Homo sapiens: one gene and its partners. The protein of the gene in region 1 purifies or fractionates together with the protein of each later gene. This does not show direct contact. Each region holds a gene or a part of one and is shown on either strand. Other genes may lie near its edges.

Region 1 (6,282 bases):
CTCTTAAAATGTTAAGGAAAAGATGTCATGTCTGCTCTGATGTTATTATTTTCTGGCCTAATCATACCTAGATCCTTGAATGTCTTTTCATATGATGTGATTTTCAGCCTTTCATGCGGCCTCATCGACTATCCCTACTGTCCTCCTCTTAAAAGTCCATCTGAAAATGTAGTCTCCAGAACAAACACATTACTCCATTCATGAACTGAATAGTTCTAAGTAAAAAGAGAAAAATTACTTGATCCAGGCATAATTCTAGTGCCAGCTAAGACTACATTTGTTCTCTTGGCAACTGTATCCGTCAGTCGGTTCAGATGGGTGTTTTATTTTAAAGTCAGATCACTCCGAAAGCCCTGACACACTCACATATACTTCCCGTAAGCCTGCTGTCTTTAGTCTATCCTTTTACAGCTAATTTTTTAAACCCAAGTTCAAGTACCAGACTTTTTAATTTGCTCTATTAACTTTAATAGTTAGCACTCTCCCATCAGTCCAATCTGTTGAGTTATATTTAATTCTGATTCTCTTATTTGGCATACTAGCTGTCTTTCTCAGTTTTACGACATCCACAAATTTTATGAACTTCCTTTACTTTTAGTCCTGACACTAAAAGAAATACAAGTCCAATAACAGATTTTATGGGATAAAACAGAAAACAAATCTGAATCTTATATACTTATATATTGATTGGTTAATGTATTCTTTGTCCAATCCCGAGGAATGGGTATGTTTAGCCCCATTTTATAGGTGAGGAAACTCAGAAGGGCTGACTAGCTTGCTCAAGGTCACACAGCTAGTGGATTGAGGAGCTGAAATTTAAAAAAAAAAAGTCTTTGATTTCACAACTGTATGCCTGTTTCTCTATATTTCCAGTATTCCAGTTAACAAGGATTCATTATACTTAGAGTGATGTGGTTTGGCTGTGTCCTCACCCAAATCTCATCTTGAACTGTAGTTCTCCTAATCCCCATGTGTCACGGGAGGGTCTCGGTAGGAGGTAACTGAATCATGGAGTAGTTACCCCGTGCTGCTGTTCTCGTGATAGTGAGTGAGTTCTCAGGAGACCCGATGGTTTTATAAGGGGCTTTGCTCACTTTTGCTCGGCACCTCTTGCTGCCACCATGTGAACCGGGACGTGTTTCTTTCCCCTTCTGCCATGATTGTAAGTTTTCTGAGGCTTCCCCAGCCATGCTGAACTGTGAGTCAATTAAACCTCTTTCCTTTATAAACTGCCCAGTCTCGGGGAAGTTCTTTATTAGCAGCGTGAGAAGAGACTAATACATTGTTCCACTAGCTATGCATATGCAAAGGCAAATTGACAGAAATGTTAAAAAGACTAAATGAATGTTCAGACAGAATGCTAACTTACTGCTCACTTACAAATGAGGTTACATATTCCAGAATCATGCATGTGAGTACAGGACAAAACGGTGTTAAGCTCTAGTCATCAAAACCTTTCAGTTAGAGTCTACTGGCTGGAGACCACTGTACTGGGGACAAAAGTTTAAATTCATTTTATAGCTATCATTGGGTCTACATTCTTTACAAATGTGTATCTAATATCAAAAACCTCAGACTGCCTTAAGGCAGGCTGCAAGTATAGTAAAGCTCCTGGAGAGGTGATTCATAATAGCAAATATGAGCTATGGGTGTGTTACATTCACACAAGAGACAAACGTGGGCATGTTCTACAACTTGGTGTGCTTTTTCTGCAAATTCTGAAACAAAAAGTGCTTCCAAAAAGACTGTTTCTGTACATACTTGAAGTAACAAAACAGCAACATGGCTGGCAGACCCCTCTCCCAAACCAGCAGCAAAGGACTTTAAGTCTCAGTCATCTTGTGTATAACTTGTTTCTATTAAAATAACCAAGTCTATTTTTTTTTCTTTTTTCCTTTGTTCCCTTAAGATAGAAACACTATCCCTCTGTATGTTGAGAAAATAATTTTATAGTTCGAATCACTCCCCTCTAGAATTACCTTTCTTTACTAATATAAAAACAAGCACATTTTATTTACAATGACGTGATTTTTTTCCAAAAATAAAAGGTATCCAGATATCTCTCATATTTATGTGATCTCAAGAGAGTATTATTTGATTAGGGTTGTAATCTAAAAATTCATCCAGAAGGTTGTGAGTACTGAACTTATAAATAAATAAAATTTGGTTAATTTTAAATACAATTATAATATGATTAAGATTGTACACCTACATGTTACCATATTTAAAATTCAGGAAATTGAATAGAATACACAAATATTCACATATTTTTAAAATTTATGGGTACTAACAGGTGTATATATTTATGGGTACATGAGGTATTTTGATATAGGCATACAGGGCATAATAATCACATCAGGGTAAATGGGGTATCTATCACCTCAATCATTTATCCTTTGTTTGTGTTACAAACATTCCAGTTATACTTTATTTAAAAATGTACAATAAATTATTATTGACTGCAGTCACCTTGTTGCTATCTAATACTAGATCTTATTCATTAGATCTAACTATTCTTTTTTTTGTACCCGTTAACCATCCCCACCCTCCCCACAGCCACCCTACTACCCTTCCCAGCCTCTGGTAACCATCATTCTACTTTCCATCTCCTCACGTAATATTTTTGTCTTGATATATTTGTAATTTTATGAGAAACAGTTCTCTTTGTTAATCCATCTTATGTTGGTATGCTTAGTCCAGAAAATAATAAAGTTTGTAGACATTGTGTTTGTATATTAAAAATTAATTAAGCAACTTGGGCAACTTGAACAACACACTGTAAATGTACAATTCTAGCATGTAGCACAAGTGATTTGTCAGTGCAATTATAACATCTAAGGATAAGTAGGTGTCACAGGTTTAAGTAAATCAATATTTACCTTGTGTTTTCACTGGATCTGATATTTGGCTTGGATCACTAATTCCATATGCATTAGCTGCCCTCACAAGGAAAAGGTAAATTGCATTAGGTTTGAGTCCTTTAATGGCAGATGTTTCTGTTTTCACATTCTCTGCTACGGTCTGCCAGCTGCTACCAGATGCATGGCTAAGGATAGACACACAGGTTAGAACATGCGTATTTAATGGAGAATCAAAAAAGAACAACTAGGAAGCATCTCCTTCACTCTACCTGAAGGCTTCTATAATATAAGATGTTGGAGTTGCTCCTGAATTCAAATTTGGTTGCCACGATAATGTGACTGTATTTCTGCTGACATCTGTCACTTCAGGTTTTGATGGGGCACTAGGGATTAAATTTGGGTCAGTAGGTCTTGGAGGCTGAACTGGAACTCCAAATTCTAAAAAGCAGGAAAAAGGCCAAAATAAAAGATGTTTACACATACACAGATAAGCGGATAAATGCAGATAACATATTCATACACCTACTCAGGGAAGAGGACATTTACTTCATCAATATCCCAGTAAGTAAACAACTGCATTTTAAGCTTCACTTTAAGGGAAACACACCATTTACTTTACCTTGAACTTCAATGTAAGCACTCCATGTTGCTTCACCACTGGGGGTTGATGCAATGCAGGTGTACCGACCAGTATCACCCAGCTGAGAAGGCAGACAAAAAATAAATATTTGGAAAAATCAAGAACTCACTGGGCTGGAAAAGCAATTACAGGTTTGTATATGATCCATGAATATGGATAACTGCATTAAAATTCACTAACCAGAAACTTCCCCTTAGTTGAATATATTTTTATTGAATGTGAAGGAAAATATTACATCAATATAGAAAAAAAGATTTTATATGATTGTTCTAATGGTATAATAAGAAATATTTAATTGCATTAGCATATATTATCATCAGTCTCAGGGACAATAATTCCTAAGGTAAGGCATACAATTCTTCAAATTTAGAGCGTTAATATTTATGGCTAAGATATATCTTTATGTTTAATAAGTTATATAATAAGGCTGATAAAGTTTAACCAATGCCTATTCTTGCTATTTCATATTTTACTTATATATTTAACTATATGGATATATGAGATCAACAGAAAAAGGATAGGCATCATAGAATTTTTTTCTTAAACTACTGACTTTTCCGGGTTTTAAAACTTGTAACTTAAGGCAGTTTAAGAAGTACAAAGCCAAACTCAAGCTGGAACGAACACTCTCGCTCCCTTTTAAAAACTGAATGTCAGAAGGCAAACATAGGTTACATGTTCAACTTTGAAATCAGCAGCAGGATAATAAACCCATCTACTTCTGCTCAAGCTAATAACTATCTTCAAGTAACATTTGATAAAGAAAGAATGTTGTCATCTTGCCCTGGCAATTGCAGGAACCAAGTCACAACAGTCACAAAGCAGCACAACATATTAACTGTTGTGGCACTTAAAGTGAACTGTGATGCTGATCCAATACTCCAAAGGAACCACCCACACTAGGAGATAAAGCAACTGAAATTCATGTTTATTGCTGTCAGGACTATTCTTTCATATGCCTCAGGAGCTCGTCTGATCTTGACATAAAAAAAGAAGAAAAATCAAAACAATAAAGTCCTGAAAGAGCAGGCATGGGATATGATGCCCTGTGAAAGTAAATCCTTAAATGGTTCCTACAGACCTGTGGGCTTTCCATCATTGAGCATTCTGATTTGAATTGTACACTCGGTGTGTACATTGCTTTATGGCTTTTGTTTGCATGTATAGTTTTGCCATTGCAAAATGCTGAAACAAACACTTACAATAGAAGAACTATCTAAATATATTGCACATAAAATGATACAGGTAAATATCTTAAAAGATGCTTTATGGAAGGACTGCTTCGTACCACTACTTTGAAGATATTTATTCTCTCACAAACCCTCATTTACTTTCCTCGGTAGGTTCTTAGAAATCCTTTCTTCTCCTCCATACAACCTTAAATTACCTGCCATGGACTAAATTATGAGTTAAATCATCTCAAACATATACAATGAAATATCTGAAAAAAATAAAACATCAAATTAAAAATATATTACTACTCTTCATTTAACACTTCATTAATTGCAAAGTTAGAAATTTCAATGCCAGTTGTTGGAGGCAGAAACAAAGTGAAACAAAACAAGAAACGCAAGGTGCCATTCCAAGTTACCTTAGCATATCGGATCTGCAGTACTCCATTCTCCAACTGTTTGATTCGAGAGTCTTGGGTTGAAACGAGGACTCCATCCTTTCTCCACAGAATGGTGGGCACTGGACTGCCTGTGGCCACACAGCTGAGGACGAAAGTGCCATCCACGGCTACAGTCTGATTCACAGGACCTTGTCGAATAACTGGGGGAGGCCGATCTGCAATCACTGCCAGAAGAAACAACAGGAAATAGATTTCTGCAACTGGAAGCAATTTTCTAATCATCCAAGCAACAGCAGTTGTTCTAGGCTTTGAAACAAACTAAAGATAATTAAACAAGTAATTAAAGTAGCAGACATGCATTATTCAAAATGCATTTATATGATGCACTGATTCAGAATACTAAAATGAGACACAATGTGCTACTTTCAAATGACCAGCCACTCACTGAGCTGGCTGCATCGTCAAGAGGCCTATTTAAAGAGTTCGGGAATTAGGATTGTGGATGGTGAAGTAGATACAGAGACGTGATCATGGAATACTGTACTTTTTAAACTCAAAAACATGAAAAAACACAACATAACAAAAAGACCATTCCTCTCAAGGAAACATATGAGATAAATTTTAATAAATGAAGCAAAGCCAAATTGACATTTCATAACTTGTACAACAGAAAAAAAGAAACAAGGTACCATACCAGCATGTTTAACAATTTTGGATCCAAAAAAGTGCATTGGATTTCGTAATTTAATAAATCAGTGTGATTGAGTTCCCTGTGTCTTTTTATCTTGTAATTCTTTCTATTACAATATACATGGGAGAAAATTACCCAACTGTAATGAATTCAAAGAAATTGGAAAATTGCCCAAATACATTGTTGTTTGGCTGATCCAAAGAGACAAGTCAAAATGATGTTCTAACTTGGCAAACACCATACTTCTCTATTGGGATTAATGGGATTGGGAATGTGCCTCTGCTAACTCCGTTACCTTAGATAATAGTTATAACATACTACGGAAAATAACAACGAGAGGCAATTTTATTATGTGTAAATACAATTAACCCTATGATTACATGAAAAAAATCTAAAATCTAAAAACTTTATCTGACATGAAGTCTTTTTTAGGGGAAAACATAGAACAACTGTGTTGGAACTAGAATAAATCCTACATTGAAGAGGTGTTCCCATCCCCTGACTTAGGCAATTTATA
Region 2 (6,282 bases), on another chromosome or scaffold:
GTTTCTGATAACTCACTCTTCACATACTGTATTTTATAAATTCCTTAGGAAATGTCTTCTTTCAGACAAATAAAAAAGTCGCAATAATTTTTTAAAGGCTGTTCTAGGCCCACTCCGTCTCTGTGTAACATGGAGGAAGGTCCCACCACTGGCTGGAACGTGTAGAGAAGTCATAGTTCCTCATGAACGATAGCAGAAGGGGAAATAGAAGCAGGGCACATATTGATCTATGTTTTCTACTCTTTATCCTGAAAGGTCTGTTTGAGAACATGAAGTTATGTTCCTTGCCAGGAAGCTAAAAAAACCCCATTGCCACACTTCTGACTCCAGGACATCAGAAACTCTGAGGTCATGAGGACCAGGGGAAAGCAGAAGATCCTTCACCTCCAGCGAGGAGTAAGGGTGGAGGAAGAGTGGGTTCTGGCTGCTAGAAAATGGCAAATCAGAAGCCCTGATATTCCCCTACTACCTCAGACCACCACAGAGGTATTCACAGAGAAGAGAGAAGGCAGTAGGGTGCCCATAACTAGGTAACATCCAGTTCTACAAAAGGAGGGAGTAAGAGAAAAAAAAAGAAAGAAAGAAAACCTTTGTGGTCTTCTTCCATTTCATTGGTGTAACCACTCCCACCTGGCTAGTTTCAACCTACAAAAGAGAGAGCAACGAACTCAGAGTTGAGCAAAATTGGCTTTCACAAACCAGTTCAAGCTGACTCAAGCCAGCTCCAGCCTGCTCCAATACACCAGCAACAGGAACTGGCATATATTTCCGTTAAAGTAAGTTATAATGGAGACCAGGCTTGAAGAATCTCTGGGCCAGACAAATCCATTTAGACCTCATAAGTGACCTTAACCTTGCTCAATTTGCAAACATAAGCAAAACTTAACTTCAGCTATTTCTTATAAATCCCTATATTAAAGAAAAATGAAACCAAGTTAACTAATCAGAAGCCTAACTTACATAGAGACTTTCCAGCAGAATCGACCAAATAAAGCAACTCTATAACTGCAACCAATCAAATATTTTCTGTGCTTTACTCCCTTTTTCACCCTATAAAAGCCTTCTCCTTGCATTCCCTCCAAAAAGCCTGCAAACCACAGCTGTCCAATTCCTGAATCGGTATTTGCTCAAATAAATTCTTTTGAGCTTAACCGTGCCTCATTTTACCTTTTGACATCCCAAGACTTTTCTACACTGTCTTATTCTTAACGTAGAAGACAGTTTGGCTGGGGAAGGGCCCAGGATTTGAACTCTCAGCAGCCAATGTCTCTAAACATTTAATGGACCTAAACAGGTATTTTAGCACTAAATCTCTAAATGTAAGTCTCCTTTGGGAAAAATAAAAAATAACAGTAAAAAGTTTCACAGTAATAATACCTACTATATACTGAACTCTTTTTATATACCATCTGTAATGCTAAGCACCTTAGCAGCATCTCATTTAACCCTTACAGCAATCTTAGAACAAAAATAATATTATCCCTCTTTACAGATGAGAAAACAGGCTCAGAGCTCTTTATAGCTAGTGAGTAGCATAACTAGAATTTATACTCTGGTCTATCTAACTCCAGAACCAGTGTTTTAACCCATTAAGCCTCTCTCCACTCCTATGCAACTCCATGCACTAATTTATAATAAACTCTACCCACAAAAGTTCCAGGAGTGCCTATAGTCCTTGATTATTTTCTTCAATTCAATTCAACAGACTTTGAGATCTCAATACTTTCCAAGAGAACTGTGCTAGGCTCTAGGGATACAGAGATGATGAAAACCCAGTAGATACTCACAAGAGGTACATAATAGCATTCATCACATTCTGTATCATGTTATACGACAAACCTTCCCAAGCATCTGCAGAGTTAACAAAATTACTAAAATCCCCTTAAATTCAGTTAAAGAATTTGGATTAGAGGACTAGCATGTAAGTGAACCTATAAAAACAACTATAAATGTTTCACATACTTGGAAAAATAATGACAGGAAAAAAATATCAGTAACATTTCACACATTGTAATGTGGTAATAATAGACATAGTGTTATGAATTGTTACTTGCCAATTCTTGCTTACAGGAAATTTTATAGGTCTACTGTGATTTGCAGTTTCAATAATATATTTGCAAATAGTTTTTACTCCATTTTGGATCATACTAATACTGAAGACAATTATTTTTTTCCTCTCTGGTCCTTCATTCAAATGTATGATGACTTTCTGATTTTATGTCCCAGAAATTACCACTACTTCCCAGGTAGGGGCTGACTTCCATTAGCGTGCAGCTCTGAAGCCACTGTTTCTTGACCTCATCTTCATTTACTTTTCTCAAGGAAGGCTTCTCTATAAAAGCTTCTTCTCTTGCCTGCCATCTACTTCACCTCCTTTTCCTAAAATCAACTCTTACCTCCAATTCCTTGTGTCTTGAATATTCTGTGGCGGAAGAAATTCTCATTCACATATATAGAAACGGGAAGTCCTGAGGTTGCTGAAAGACCTCATCCCACCTTGTTTTAAGCATAATATGATCTTGATACCTGCCAAAGGTCAACTGTTGGTAAAGCCACAAAACCATAGTGCTAAAATCCCCTTTCAAATCCTCATCACGCCTAATCTTAAGCATGTTGGGAGAAAACGTTGCCTTTGCAGAAATGCTTGCTTGATTCTGAAGATTCATGTGGTCTGATGGTGCATCAAGGCAATTAGCATCTTTTTCATTTTTCAAAATTGTTTACTTTAGTGGCACCAATTAGCTAAAAAAGGGTGTGGACTTTAGGGTTCCAGGATTAGTTGTATTATTTCAGTGTAACAAGTAAGTTTTTGGTTATTACTATAAAGTCCAATTAAAATAAATTTGACCATTAAAGGCAGGAAAGTTGAGTTGTGGCAAATTAGAAATCAACTAACATCAAGAATTTCCCACAAGGGATTTCATTGGGAGAATTATTTGTGTCTGGCCTTATGACTGCAGTAAATTCTTTGGAGAAAACAAATGTTTTATTCTTACATTCTTGTAACTCTCACATAACCTACTATATTATTTTCTACAAGATAGACACATGTTTATTAAACCGACATTTAGGTCAGGGAAGCTATCATTATACCTTTCTCTTCGGCAACCTGCAAACTGGGAATCATAAAAATCATAACACATAGGACTCTCAAATCCACTTTCATCTAACAAACCCGACATTTTTAAAAATTATAATACTTCAGTAAAGCACAGTAAGAGAATACATAAAGAATGACAAAGCCACTCTTTTAGATCTCTTGAAGGTGAGATTCAAGCAGAGATCCATGATCTGTCTTAAGTGAAGGAATGAGCCAGGTAACTTTCAGGAGGAAGAAACTTCCAGACAAAGGGAATCCAACTGTCAAGCCCTTTGAGACAAGAGCTCGATTTGATGTGTTCTAGGAATAGCAGGAAGGTCAGCATGGCTGCATGAGCAAGGGGAGTGGCGGGAAATTTGGGAAGCAAATGGGACCAAGGAAAATTGGGTCTCGTAGACCATGGTTAGGACTTTGAATTTTATTTTATGTTTGATGGGAAATGTTAGCAGAGTTTTGACAAAATCTACCTTCAGTTTAGAAAGTTAGTGTTAAGACTTCCCAGTTAATTAGTATGTAAACCATTTTGTTGTATTAAATAGTACTTTATGGGTTTCCAAATAGTAAACGCCTCCCATTCTCATCTCTTTTTCAGTTTTCCAAAAAAGGTATTTCTAATCTTAATAACTTTAAGATTAGGGGAGCTATGTATCAAGAGCTGTTTCTATAACATAAGTAAACATTACAGATTTTTAATTAAAGTAATTATTGTTTAGAATCTAAGGAATCTTTATGGTTAAAAGTAAAAGATCCCTTTTATGCCTTCTTATCTCATCTCAGATAATCTAGATTTCCTTTAAAATTACAAGTGGGATTTCCTTAGTTGATTAAAAAAAAGCCACAATTTTTCTAGCTGAAAATTATTTGTTATTTCAATAGATATGCACACATATATGAAATAAAAGCTTATATTGTAGAAGGCATATACAAATAAAATGACTTATTTTTCCCCTTAGAAAACAAGTTTATTCGGGGATTTTTTTCTCTCCCACTTTCTCCTTGATAATAGTGGAGATGAGCTTTGAACCTGTCTTTCTGAGCTCAACAGCTGGCTTCTTAGCTGGCTTCTTAACAATTATACATTCCTGCTGTGGGCTCTTAGACAAGGAGAACTTCTGGGGCACAAGCTGTTTTTGTCTTGTCCTGTCCTCTTACAAAACTTGAGAAACTCACTTCTCCTCACCACTTTTGGTGCTGATCAGCTCACTTCACATACAAAAGTTGAAACTCCCTAAGTTTTCAATGTTGAATAAAGAAAAATGTGTTTCCCCCTCAACCCCAGAAAATCTCCTGTTTGACTAAATGCGTATGTTTCTTGAGTGTTACAAGCTCCAAGGGTGCTCAAAGGAGGTTGTCCTTTAATATTGCCTTCCTTCTCTGGCAAGACCATACCTTCCTACAATGACCTGGTATCCTTTGCTATCTCTACATTCTTTCCATGTCTAAACTCATCCCTTCTCTTGGCGTTAAATACCATGTATATGCAGACAACTCCTAAATTATTATCTCTTGCCCGAGCCTCTCCTTAAAGGTACATTTCCTGTATTCATCTTCCATCCCCACCTAGATGTCTCATGGATATCGCTAAAGTACCATGTCCAAATAGAACCCTGAAATGTGTCTTTCCTTCTGCCCCTCTCTGAGTGTTCCCATCTCATCAGCACCACCATCCACTGGCTGGCCTAAGGCAGAATACTGAGTATCAACTTTAATTTCTTACTTTCCTTCACTGCCAACCTACAAACCAGGAAATCTTTTAGTTAAAAATTTATCTAAAATTCACCCATTAGTCTAATGCAACCATCATTATCACTCCATAAACTACTGTAACAGCTTCCTTCCAAGATCCAGCTTTCCCTCTGGCATCTCTCAAATTTATTCTCCCATGCTACCAGAGTGGCCTTTTTAAACCCTAATGGTCATATTATTCCTCTCTTAAGATCCTTTACCCGCTTTCCATTGTGTTTTGCATAAAATCTAAATTTTTCACCTTGGCCTACAAGACCTGCCTGATCTGGCCCCTGACAAAGTCTTTACAGTGTTAACCACCATCGTCATTATTGCTATTATCACAATCATCTTGATTCAGAACCATTTCAGCTATTTCACCATTGGTTAATAAATGAACAACTGGAGCCTCATTATCAGTGTTAAAAATTTCTTCAATATCAACTTCTTCCAACTTACTGGTGGACTCTGAAGGTACTTTTTTTTGCGTATGTATGGTCAGACATCTTTTTTTTTTCTCATTTGACATACAGAATCATTCAAAGTCACTTTATTTATAATACTTACTGAACATAGTTGCAGGACAGAGGTTATGCCAGGTATGCACAACTGTCTTTAGTTACTGCATTACAAGCATTGGCAACAGCATATACAACATCCTTTATGCGAAACACCCACACCTATGTTCACTGCTGATAACATACTGTTTACGAAAATGTTTTATATTTACACTGATTGATCTAAGGACACCATTCTCACATGGCTAAATTAATAAAGTCACATTTGGGGAAAAGCACATGGAATAAGTATTACTTTTGATGAGAATTTTAGCTGAAGAATAAGCATAAAAGTTGTCAAGGAATAACAAAATCTTGCAGCCTTCATCCAGTCCAGCTTCCCTGCAGTGAGCATGAGCCATTGCTACAAAATGTTGTGAAAACAATCACAAAAGATGTCCCTGGTGACCCATGCCTTTTGTTAGCATGATAATGGACTAGTAAGAAATTTACTCTTTGAAAATAGTGAGAATTCAAGCTTTTGCCTATTACAGCAGGTTTACATTTGTGTGTGCCTGCTGCATTAGCACATCCCAGCGCAATTATCCTGTCCTTGGTATCCTGATTGCCCACAAGGCCTGTCTCATCGGCTGAAGTCAGTGTCTTTCTGAAGCAATAATGCCAAAACAGTGATGTTTCATCAGCACTATAGACTTGATCTAGTGTGAGAATTTTTATCAGTGATGATCTTGGCAAACTCATCAATAAATTTCTCTGCTGCTTTCTGATCAGCAGATGTTTCGTCACTACAAATATTTGAAAATTTAATGCCATGTTTTTTCTTAAATTTATGCCAAAGAACTACGCATATTCGCAGTTCTTTTAAATTTTCAGTTCATCGTGATAGATCTTTTCCTGTTTCATGATCAGCATACCATTAAGTGGCATGTGTTCTTTGTG
Region 3 (6,282 bases), on another chromosome or scaffold:
TAGTAGAGACAGGGTTTCACCATGTTGGCCAGGCTGGTCTTGAACTCTTGACCTCAGGCAATCCACCCACCTCAGCCTCCCAAAGTGTGGGATTACAGGCATAAGCCACCACGCCCGGCCTGTAGAATTAGTCTTCTCTGCCTTGAAATTATTTCTACCAATTCTTGGTCCCTTGGAATCATTTCCCTAAAACTCAGCATTTATTCAAGGACCCTGGAACATCTTATGTTATAATAATTGTAAAGTTAGGTCTAAAGCATTTTCTTCCAAATCTTTGCTTGTTTTTGTTTAAAAAAAAAAATCACACTTCGCTAAACATGGCTGCTAGGAAGCCCTGAGCTGAACTTACAGTTGACCTTACTTTTACTAATGGTGTGGGATTTTCCTGCATGCAATTTCTGCCACAACTTTTTCTGTAGTCTTGTTTTATAACTATACCTCTTTTTATTTTTGTATGGATTTATCTATCCAAAATCTTATTGAACATATTTTTCTGAGCCACAGGAAGTACTTTTGGGAGTGAGGTGGTGTGAATTTATACAGAACAAAAGCAGCACATTAAGAAGGACACCCACAGGTGGAGCACTTAGTCACTCCCACCGGCCAACAGCGCTTGCTTAGGGAGCCGGATGAGGAAAGCTCATTTAAAAATATGGTAACATCTATGTGTGAGATGCTGAGTGATGCTCTCAGATGAAACCCAAAGATGATGACATCCTTGCAGACACCCAGGTGTGTATTTCTTCATACTCTAGAAAATGATCAGTCAATGAAATGGATATTGTCTCTTTTCTTATCGCTTGTAAATGTCAGTTTGGGGAACGAAAAAAATGCCACTTTATGGTGTGAAGTGCCTGTCTACAATAGTCCTTGCAGAGCGGCTCAGTGAGTCCATGGCATTAAAGATATGACAGTTACTATGTATACAGTCAGTGAGGAAGGCAGCACAGCAGTATCTCCGAGAGGTGGGGCCCCACCAACACTCACACCACACCCCCTGCACGCTGCATATTCATTGGCAGGTGAGGGTGCTTTTGTTTTGTGAACAATGTCTTCTGGTCTTTAGTACGCATTGTGGTTTTCCTTTTTTTTTTTTTTTTTTTTTTTTTTTTTTTTTTTTGAGACTGAGTTTTGCTCTTGTTGCTCAGGCTAGAGTGCAGTGGCACAATCTCAGCTTACTGCAACCTCCACCTCCCAAGTTCAAGTGATTCTCCTGCCTCAGCCTCCCGAGCAGCTAGGATTACAGGCACGTGACACCACGCCCGACTAATTTACATATTTTTAGTAGTGATGGGGTTTCACCATGTTGGCCAGGCTGGTCTCGAACTCCTGACCTCGGGTGATCCACCCACCTCGGCCTCCCAAAGTGCTGGGATTACAGGTGTAAGCCACCACGCCCGGCCATGCATTGTGGTTTTCTTAATGCCCAGCTTTGTATGAAGTCCTCTAAAGTCCCCTTTGAGGAGTCGTCGAATTACATTTCCATTTTCTTTCATTAGGAAGCTATGTCTGGCCTGAAAAATAAAAACAATTTTATGGTTTCTCATAAAGGTGTAATTTTGCTTCACTCTTATTCACTTATTTTCACGATGGAGAGAATGAAATTGTTTCCCCACAGGAATCATAGTCCATTTTTTGCCTTTCATGTTAGTGATTTTTCCCCCTCATAGCTCCCTAAGAAAAACTAAAGCAATTTGAAAAGAAAAAAATGCAATCTTATAACAAAGTTGGCTTTGTCTTGATAAATACAATGATGGATGACCACAACCACTTAAGTCCTTTTGGGCAAATGAATAATTCTCTGACTATATCTGAGAAGTGGAAACACATGAATTTACATTCTGGTTCTTCAAATATCTTCTCCCTTTCCCTTCTTACATTGACCTCACTTGCCTGAAATTAATGAAGCAAATCCCCAAGGGCAGAGGCTAGAAGGTTTGTGAGGCTTGAAGCTTATACGAGGTTCCTCTTTAAGAAAAACAATACAAACATATCTTACTTTCACAATTTTTTACAAAAACATATGACCACATGAACATACTGCCCAAGTCCCTCCTGGGCCTTGGCAAGGCCCGTGCAAGAGAGATCCCTGAAGCTTGAACTTTATTGGCTTCACGGTAAGTCCATTTCTGCGGGCAGTGTGTTGTGGCAAATGTCCATCTACACTATGCATACTCGAATTTGCTACTTGTGTATGTAAACACAGGAACGTAGGTAATGCCTATACAGAGAATAAATAGGAATATACAAGTATACATATAAAAACACAAGATTACATATTGAGTTTTCAATACACAAACACACAGATACTTATTTTTTTCTATTTTTGTTGTTTCTAAAGATCATATCCAGGCATGATCCCTCTTCTCCAGACTTTGAATTGTCTACCTGCATTTCAGTGTTCGCTTTAAGGGGGAGGTAATCAATTTAGCACATTATCATTCAATCAGACAAGCTGACTCAAACACCGTTCTCTGAATTGGACTCATGCTGAGCAATCCTCTATTCTAGAAGCCAGGTGTGAGGGGTGGGAGGCAGGAAGCCAGTGTGGGTAGGGAGCCCATTGCCAGTAGACAGAGCATGGCTTGGTTCTTTCCCACCCCCCAAGCAGTTCAGATACTGGTTTGGAGGTCTCCATTGAGGAGGGTCCTCTGGGTCTCCGTGGTCTCATTCAGCCGGGATTTGTCCTGCTTACTGTCACTCCGCTCCCCATCATCTGTGCCGCTCACCTTGACCAAGCAGAGGACATTCTGGAAGCTCTTCTTGAAGTTGTCAGACAAGAAGGCATATAGGATAGGGTTGGCACAGCTGTTAGCATAGGTGAGGACCACCACAAAGTCAAACATGCCTTTAAGGGCTGGGGTGGGGCTGATGGCCATGGAGACGGAAGAAACGTTGAATATGTAGAAGGGAAGCCAGCAGAAGATGAAGACAGCCACCACGATGGACACCATTCGGGTGACCTTCTTCTCAGACTTCTTCCTCTTAGAGGAGCCCACTCGGATTCCAGAGGACTTCACCTTGATGATAATGAACAGGTAGCAAAGACAGATGATGGTGAGGGGTACCAGGAACCCCAGAATGAAAGTGTAGATGATGAACCCTGTGTACCAAGCCCCAGATTCACCTGGCCAGTTGATGGTGCAGCTGCTTCTCCCCCACTGGTTGCTCCGGAGCCCAGCATATATCATGATGGGCAAGATGACCAGCAGAGAGACTCCCCACACAGCCATGGTGATCATCTTGGCCGTCCGGGGTCTCCTCCACTTGGCCGACTTGATGGGGTGGACCACAGCCAGGTATCGGTCGATGCTCATGACTGTCAGGCAGAAGATGCTGGTGAACTGATTGATGCCATCCACAGTCATGACCACCCGGCAAATGGCCTTGCCAAAGGGCCAGTGGACCAGAGCCACCTGCATAGCCAAGAAAGGCAGACCCAGCATGAAGAGCTCATCTGCGATGGCCAGGTTGAGGATGTAAATGTTGGTGATGGTCTTCATCTTGGCATAGCGGAGGATGACATAAATGACAAGTGTGTTGCCACACAACCCAATGATGCAGACCACAAAATAGATGAATGTGAGGACTGCATTGCTTGTCAGGTCATAGTACGGCTCTGTCTGGTTTGAGGTGTTGGTTGACACCACAGAGCCATTGAGGTCAAATGGAATGGATAGCCATGTGTGGCTTCCATTGAGTGGCTCATCCGCCATGTCCATGGCTGCTTTTCAGTCTTAGGCTAGTTCCAGCCAGCCCAGAGATCTTATTCTCACCTTAATGGACCCTGGAGGCCAAGGATCCAGTGTGACATCTGGAAGGAAAAGAGGAAGATTGGCCCGTCGGTCACAGGCTGTTTAAAGTCTCACCAAATTTACACATTTCTGGTTTAGCCTCTCAGACATACTCTTAAATTGAAAAATGTATTATCTTTCCACATCAACATTAAGCTCTAGAGTTCCTCATCAGTGTGCAGACTTTTTGAGTTGTTTTTCCAATAGTAGGGAAGGGTTTGGGTTCAGCCATCATCTGCTGACGCACATGTCGGGGAGGGCTGTGGCTTCAAAAAGCACATACTTTGACCCCTAAGAAGTTGACTGATCTAAACTGCAGAAAGGCAGAGCTTGGAGAAGTTCAGCGCCTGACCTCAGAAGGGTCTGACACTGACATTCCTGGCCTCTTCCCTACCAGGAAATCTATGCTGACTTGCTGACTGCCTTGGAGTCTTTCCATTCTGAAAATGCCATAGTGGAAAAAACCCAGACTCTAGAGGCAGAACAAACCGGGTTCCACTGCTGAGCCCGTGTGACCACATGCCTGGTCCTTAATGGTTCTGACTCTTATTTCTTCACATGGGGGCGTCATGAAGGTTAAATGATGGAATATATGTGAAAATGCCTAGCCTTGCGTTGGGCTCATAATGGGAACCTCGTAAGTTGTTTCCCCCCATGTTTTCCTCTACCATCTCATTATCTCTGATTTATTGAAATCTACCTACGTGGTGAAACAATTTATAGTCTTCAGTATTAAAAATAAAAGTCTGGTTTGCTTTCATTTTTGAAATGTAGGCTTCAGTTTATTTTTTGTTTTTCTTCTATTTTTGTTTTCCAATACCTAATGCTTGACTTCCTCAAGAGCTCTTTCCCAAAGTCCCTAAGGGGATGCTGCTCCCAAGTGCTGTAACACTCCAGAGAATTTGCCTGCCATTTTCTAATTACGGACAAAAACGGGAAGCAGGTGTGGGACACAAGCTCTTTCACAGAAGTAAGCAGAAGGCTTCCAGTACTGATATAATTCATTCACACTCACGAGTCCCTTGATCTCCCCAACTGTCCTAGGTGGTAGGGATAATTACCCCCATTTTAGAGATGTGGAAACTGAGGCTTAAGAGAGTTTAAGGAGCTCACCCCATTCTCTTGCACATAATTGGTGGAGCTGGGATGTGAACACAGGCCACCTGGCCCCAAGTCTTTTGCACGTCTCAAGGCATCCCCTCTGCTCCTCAGTGGCCTAGAGACCGAACGGCTGATAACTGGGCTTTGGTTTGAAGCAACTGACTCCTGTGTTACTTCCTTGCTGAGAAAATAATTGGAGCACTATTGGCTTGGCTTAAGATCTAAAACAATAGTTCATCCCATAATTAAATGATTGATATACAGCCATTCAAAAAATATCACGGGGGTTGGGGGCCTGGAGAGGAGGCTTCTTTGTGCTGACAGCAGGGATGTAGAAATGAACAAACTTGGCCAGTGCCCTCTAGGAGGTGATAATTTAAAAGGGGAGATAGGAAAGGAAGCCAGCTCATATAGGGTGGGCATTGCACGAGAGATAAATGAAGGACTTAAGAATGCCTTCCTTTCCTGGGGGACTCAGAGGAGGCTTCCAAAGAGAAGTGTTTGAGCTGGGTCTTGGGTATATGAAGAGTGAAGCAGGAGGACAGCAAAGAGGCCAATCTAGGAAGAGGCGAGATGTTCAAAGGGTGGTGTGTTCAGCAGAGTGGGACTAATTCACTTGGCTGACACATTTCCCCTGAGCTAGGTCCTTTTCCTGGTGCCTGGGTGTAGATGGAAGATTACTTCTTAATCCTTGGAAAGACTGCAGATCAGTTAAAGGAGACTTGGCCAGCAACAAGTACTTGAGGATCCTTGCTCACCTTTGCTTCTGATTGATTCTGAACTGCCAGGTGCATTGCTCGTTCCTTCTGTGCTCATTTCCCTACCACACAACTGTCTGTGAAGTGAGATCTGGGCTTTGTGGCTGACCATTTTGTGAAGTATTTGAGGCACCTGGAATTTCATGTCTGCATTGCGTAAAAAAGCATAGACTGGCAGCAATTAAAACAGAAGCTGTACAGAAACTGTGGTTAGTATCCCTGGATTAACTTGGGTAGTTTCGTTATCACTTCTAACCATCTGGTCAGTTGGTTTAATTCTACAGAGCCAGAATCCTATTCAAGCTGCCTGCAATCAGAGTGTACCTTATCATGGGGATTTCCAGGGGCCCATCTATATAACATGAATGGTCACACTCCAATGTCTGAGTAACACGGAATCCCCCTGGGTTGGCAGAGCCCCTGTCTAAGAGCTTTTGGGCTAGGAACGATGATGGTGCAGGGAGTATGAGAGAGGGTTGAGTGTTGCTTTCCAGCCCTAACTCGGTCATTTTAACTGGAGTTTGAGTCAACAGGACAGAATTGCTTAATGGTAGCAACAGACAGGGTTCAGAGTCTTGGTGAAGGTGGTGGAGGTGGGAGGCTGGGGAGCCGGCTGAGAGTGGGAAGGC
Region 4 (6,282 bases), on another chromosome or scaffold:
CAGAAAGCCTTTGACCCTGCAAGGATGAGTACTGTTCAGAGTCCACCATCGTCTGCCTCCCTTGTCGTGTAGCTGCTACTAGAGCCCCTGTTTATCTGCCATATGTCCCTCTGTAGGAGCTCACAGGGGCGACTGCTGTCTGCTGTTGGTGGTGGCATCACCAGGAGCAGAATGGATTCTTTCTCTCATGCCTTTTAATCTGGCATAGATGCCGTTGACAGAACCTAATAAGAACTCAGTAACTGTCAGAATATTAATGCATGTCCAAGCACTTGAACTAACTTATCATTAAGGTCCTAGAACTGCCTAGCTCTGTAGAATGTTTCTGTAGGATTCATGAAAACTTTTGTGGAAGTCTTAATGGTGTTTACCACATTTAAAAATCTAGATTAGGTCATCTTTTCCCCCCTGTTAAATCCAACTGAAATTCTGAATCCAGTTAGGAAGTTGCAGCTAGCAGGGGCTTTCAGTTGTGCTATGTATTTGGCAAGAAAGTTCAAGAATCGGCTTGTTTTTTTCTAAGACATGTTATAAATTCATTCTAAATATAAATGACATTTGCAGCTCATAGATGCTGTTTTACCCAAACATTTTTTAATTTAATTAAGCATGCTTAATATGATATATCAATGTATTCCTTATTAAGAAAACAAGGGAATGCGGCTGGGCCCAGTGGCTCATGCCTGTGATCCAGCACTTTGGGAGGCCGAGGCGGGCAGATGACCTGGGGTCAGGAGTTCGAGACCAGCCTGGCCAACATGGCAAAAAAAAAAGAAAAAGAAAATAAGGGAATGCCCGGATTGTGTACAAGGTATTTTCCTTTATATATCAAATGGAGGAAACCTGCAGAAACACTGGAAACCAGAGTAAGTTGCTACCTACATACAATTTTCCTTTAAAAATTTTTAAGGAATTCGGGGAACTATTAGACTTGGAGAACTATTTCAAATCAAAGGAAGAAGTGGAGAGCTCTCACTTCCTAGGCTCAAGAAAGCTGAATTTTTATTGGAAATGTAGGACTCCAGTAACACCCTTAATTTGAAGGTGCAGGGACTAAAGGGTGACAATTAGCTTGGGATCCTTTTCAGCCAAAATTATTTGAAGCCAGCTGTGCAGGGAAACCCAAGAGTAGGCCTCTCCTCCCACATCCACTTCTAAACTGCAGCACTGAGAACACCCTTGGGCTGCAGTAGATATCTGCAGTGAGGGCTGAGCCACATCGAAGCTGTGCAGTGACTCAGCCCGCCTTCCTACATTAAACTTGGTAATCTTACATTTATGTTTATTTCTCTGGCTTTGGTGATGAATATGGTATAGTCATATCTTACATGGGGTTAGGTTCTAATGTTAGTAAGGGAAAAAAATCACATATAGCTAAAATCACCCTTGACAAAATTCTAGAGAAGGCATAATCATATTGGAGACTGCCCCATCAATTCTCAGTAGAGCAGGTAGTCACTTTTATGTCCAGCGTTTGAACAGATGGCTAGATGGCTAGGGTGATTCTTAAGTTGAGTGCTAGCTAAGGTAATAGGCTTGTATTGTACGGGCTGAGATTTTAAACACTGCAATGATAAACAGCATGTTGATGTACTTATGCTCTGCAAGATACCCAACGAGAGACTAACGTGGGAATGGCAGGTTTGCATCACATACCTCACACTTACCTCTCTGGAGCATACCCTTCTTGAATGGAATGACTGGTAGACTCACCACTATTTAAATTCTCTATTTCTGGCTAAGTGCACATAATTGAATGTCGTGCATGTCAAGTGAGTGAATGACGTGGCCACTGTAAAGAGATAACATAAATGGATGAATCTGCAACATAAAAAGAGGCTCCACAGAAAACAGTATTTGACAGAAGCAGCTTTTTTCTCAAAATTCTCCGAGACTGAAAATGAGAAGATCTAACAACAAATGAAGAAGCAGTTCAGGATGAAATACTGATAATATATAAAGTGAATGAAGCTGATTATAAAACATGTATGAGAGCTGGATGTGGTGGTGCATGCCTATAATCCCAGCACATTGGGAGGCTGAGGTGAGAGGATAGCTTTGAGGCCAGGAGTTCAAGACCAGTTTGGGCAATATGGCCTGACCTGTAATTTTTTCCCCCCCGTGGGTACAAAGGGAAGGGAAACAGGATCTTCATCTTTTTTTTTTTTTTTTAATGTATGAATATAATTTTGAGTGAAATATATGCCAAAATTTTATGAAGTTTTTTTTTCTTTCAGTGCTTAGATAGATAAATGGTTTGCTTGCTATATAAGAACATAGGTTTGACATTTATGGATTTAACATTCCTGCTTTGACTATTCCTAAGTAACCTGGAAGGCTCAAGATAGGCAGAGGTATGTGATTTTGCTGATTTAATGTGCAGAAATGAGTCCATTACTTAGAAAATGTGCCTTGCCAGCTGCCCGGTTTATCTATCTCAGTACAGCTTTTTCTCTTTCTCTTTTTCTTTCTTTTTTTTTTTTTTTCTGTTTTGTTTTGAGACAAGTTCTCGCTAGACCTGGGTATGCACCCAGGCTAGAGTGCAGTGGTGTGATCATGACTCACTGCAGCCTCAACCTTCCATGCTTAAGCAGTCATTTTGCCTCAGCCTTTTGAGTAGCTGGAACCACAGACATGTACCATCATGCCCGGCTAATTTTTAAACTTTTTTACAAAGGTTGGGTTTTGTCCATATTGCCCAGGCTGGTCTCGAACTACTAGCTTCAAGCAATCCGCCCACAGCTCCCAAAGTGTTGGGATTACAGGAGTGAGCCACCGTGCCCAGTCTGTTTTTCTTGATTAATTCTTCTGCAGTACTTGCCATGAAGTAATAAACACTCCTTCCCTATTAAATATAGCACTTTGAAAGAAAGCAGACTAAATCAAGACTGTTGTTCAAAGTGAATAGATGGAAGAATTGATAGTTCTGTCAGGAAACAGGTTTTTGATATATTAAAGAATAGGATGTTTGACATGAACAGAGTTTGTCATTTTAAACATGGGGGAGAGTTAGGCAATGATATACATAGATGTGAGGATTGACAAAAATGATGTTTCTCTTCTTTAAAAATAACAGGATGGGCCAGGCATGGTGGGTCATGCCTGTAATCCTATGACTTTGGGAGGTCGAGGCAGGATTGTTTGAGCCCAGGAGTTCAAGACCAGCCTAGGCAATATAGCAAGACCCCATCTCTATTATTTAAAATAATAAAAATATTAAAAATTTATTATAAAAAAACAAATATCAGGATCATCTGTATTCAAGAAAAATGTACTGATAAGTAGGCTGCTGTTAATTTCTAGTAAAGAATCTAACTTCAAATCATACATAATTTTAGATAAATAGAAAAAATTCTGTATATTTTAACAGTATTAGGATGATTCTCTAAATATAGGCAAAGAACTGAAGAGTTCCATAGAAGGTGACTAACTATAAATGTATTATACATGACTGGAAAAGTAATGGCAAGCAAGACTTCAGAGCTGAGCTATCTTGATATTTTTATCCAGTGTGTGGGGTGTTACACATGCATCACAGCTATAATAGAGCTATCACATGGATCTTTTGAAAAACAAGATAGAGATGTTTTAAAGGCTTCTGGGTTTGATTTCTTAGTCAGATGCTGTGGTACTTGGCATTTAACAACTAGAATTCAGAATCCAGATTTTTAAAGGTGAATTATTTTAAATAACTGAGTTGTAATAGAGAAGTAATTTATTTGAAATTATTTTAGGAAATGGAAGATAAAGTGACTAGTCCAGAGAAAGCAGAAGAAGCAAAATTAAAAGCAAGATATCCTCATCTGGGACAAAAGCCTGGAGGTTCAGATTTCTTAAGGAAACGGTTGCAGAAAGGGGTAAGTTCTCATGGGTAATTTCCAAATACTTAAGCCCTACAAACTCAGTATGCTGACAGATTGTGAAACGGATATCTGTGCGTATAGCATTGTACTTTATCAGGTATGTACATATGTGTATATGTATCTGTAATGGGTTTTTCCAATATTTTGCAGTTTATAAATAAGCATTGTGAGAATCTACAACTCTTCAGCATTTTTAATAATAAACTATTTAAAGCATGTAGAAATAGTGCAGATATAACAGAACCCATATACCCCTTCCCAGATTTAATGTTTATATTTTGCCATGTTGGTTTCAGTTTTATCTTTCTTAAGAAAGAAAATGTTGTAGATACTGTTGAAACCCACCCTATATGTAAATATGAGCCCTTTCCCTTATCTCTCCAAAAGCAGCCACTATCCAGAAGCTGGTGTTTATCCTTCTGCCCATATTTTGAAACTTCCATATTTTTTGCAGGTGATTCCCACACAACATTCAAAAGCTTAAAATACTTATTTGGATGAAATGATCACTTAATAAATGCACAGCTATCTCCTTTATGTAATATGTTTCACAGTCAGATTTACTCTAATACAATTTAAACATTTTCATTTTCATAGTTCAAATTACTGAAGATATTATTTTCAAATTCTTGCCATGTTTTGCGAGGTAGATACCATTATTTCTCAATAATGAGATTGAGATAATGCTGGCCTGTTTGTTCCCTAAGTATTGTCCTGTGACCCCTTCCTTTGCTGTAAAAAATTAGAGAGTTCCATCTTCAGCTTAAGCATATTCAAATTACTTACTATACAGGGAAGGATGAAATACTACTTACGGAAGAGAATTGTTGAATGAGATGCTAAATCATGTTTCTCCTTAAATACATTCATATACTGATATCGGCTCCTTGCTTAAAACACGTCTGTGTGTGTATTAGCTCTAGGTACATATGGATTGTTTTAAAGTGGCAAAAAATAGAATGGTATTTTTAATCTTACATGAAAGAATAATATTCACAGCTTTGAAATACTAGGATGATGGAATAATGACACCAAATTTATGAAGATGTAAAACTCCCGTACCATGAAATATATAATCAAGTAGGGAAGTTATTACAAAAATGTTAGTTAATGTCTAAAATACATACAGAAACTTTTAAATATATGAAAGGGAACTTTTAAGTGTACAAGAAAAACACTTAAGGTGCTCCTGGATAAAGGATTTTAACAGGAAATATAAAAAACAGAGAAATGTTTATATATTATAGACATCAGTGAAATGCAAATTACATCATAGTATTTATATAACTAAATTGCAAAAATGTTTAAAATAATACCTATTGCTAAGGTTGAAGTTGAATGAAACTAATATGCTCTTTGTTGTGTTTAAACATTAAAAATTATTACTCGTTTCAGAACAGGGTATGGATTAAGGTTTATAAAAATGTTCTTCAAATCAATAATCTCTTATTTATTAATCTAAGAGTATAATTCAGTACAAGGAAAGTCTTCCAAGTTGGAAGGTCCTCCTTATAGCTTATAACTATAATTAGTAGCAGCACCACTATTCAACAGCAGAGAAATGATTAAATAAATTGAAGTAAGTCAATAAAATAGTATTATGTGGTTATTTTAGAACATAAAGATCATAATATAGGGGATAAATAGAAGAAGTAGAATGACAACTGTGTTTTTAGTTATGAGATAAATTATTTAATCTTTGGCTATTAAATTATTTTGATTTGATTATTGTTTAGGAAATATTTTCTTTGCTAATCTCCAGCATAACCTTGGCTAATAGGCTTTCTTCCAACATTGGGCCAATTGTCACTGTAATTTTTCTCTAGCTTGAACTATTTATTTTTAAGTATCTTCAAGTCAGATTTCATATACATTGTATCTTGGAGTTGGTGTTGTAGATATAAATAGTTGAGAATGAAGAAAATGCTACTGAATCAAGAAATAAGTAGATAGAATTTGAGAAGTGAGCTCTTTAATGATTCTGTATTATAACAGAATGTCAGTGAATAAGTTATTTTATATGAAGTTTTGATTTTTTTTAAAACTCTGGATCACAGGTTCTGGGTTTTAATTTTCCTCTATCACTAGTTAGCAAACTTGACAAATTACCTTAGCATCTTTAAGTAGCTTCTTAATTTGAGAAGGTTTGATTAGATATTATGATTATTATAATAGGTCTCTTCTTGTGTTGTACTCATTAATGTTATTATGAGGTTAATGTTATTATTAGGCTTTTAACAATATGACTGTGTACACATGACTACATAGATTATCAGAGCTGGGAGGGATATCAAGAAGCTGTGTGGCCTGTTTTTACATTTTTTATTTCTTTTTGCTTTTTGTTTTGTTTTTTCATATTTGTAGGGGTTGTGAAGTCCCTAGAAAACAGAGAATCCAGTTGTAAGAAACATGGCTTTAA

Evidence for each region.
Region 2: the proteins of ROBO1 (region 1) and ANKRD22 purify together in Homo sapiens (co-immunoprecipitation; one large-scale study listed by IntAct). This does not show direct contact.
Region 3: the proteins of ROBO1 (region 1) and SSTR2 purify together in Homo sapiens (co-immunoprecipitation; one large-scale study listed by IntAct). This does not show direct contact.
Region 4: the proteins of ROBO1 (region 1) and ARPP19 fractionate together in Homo sapiens (co-fractionation; one large-scale study listed by BioGRID). This does not show direct contact.

Annotation. Positions count from the first base shown.
Region 1 is NC_000003.12:78,665,004-78,671,285, forward strand, and holds part of ROBO1 (roundabout homolog 1 isoform a precursor), read right to left. Parts: intron 5,299-6,282; coding exon 5,093-5,298; intron 3,563-5,092; coding exon 3,481-3,562; intron 3,300-3,480; coding exon 3,131-3,299; intron 3,047-3,130; coding exon 2,880-3,046; intron 1-2,879. UniProt on the Homo sapiens protein: Receptor for SLIT1 and SLIT2 that mediates cellular responses to molecular guidance cues in cellular migration, including axonal navigation at the ventral midline of the neural tube and projection of axons to different regions during neuronal development.
Region 2 is NC_000010.11:88,840,815-88,847,096, forward strand, and holds part of ANKRD22 (ankyrin repeat domain-containing protein 22), read right to left. Parts: intron 1-6,282.
Region 3 is NC_000017.11:73,166,760-73,173,041, reverse strand, and holds part of SSTR2 (somatostatin receptor type 2), read right to left. Parts: intron 3,815-6,282; 5' UTR 3,723-3,814; coding exon 2,613-3,722; 3' UTR 1-2,612.
Region 4 is NC_000015.10:52,554,675-52,560,956, reverse strand, and holds part of ARPP19 (cAMP-regulated phosphoprotein 19), read left to right. Parts: intron 1-3,734; coding exon 3,735-3,857; intron 3,858-6,282. UniProt on the Homo sapiens protein: Protein phosphatase inhibitor that specifically inhibits protein phosphatase 2A (PP2A) during mitosis. Inhibition of PP2A is enhanced when ARPP19 is phosphorylated.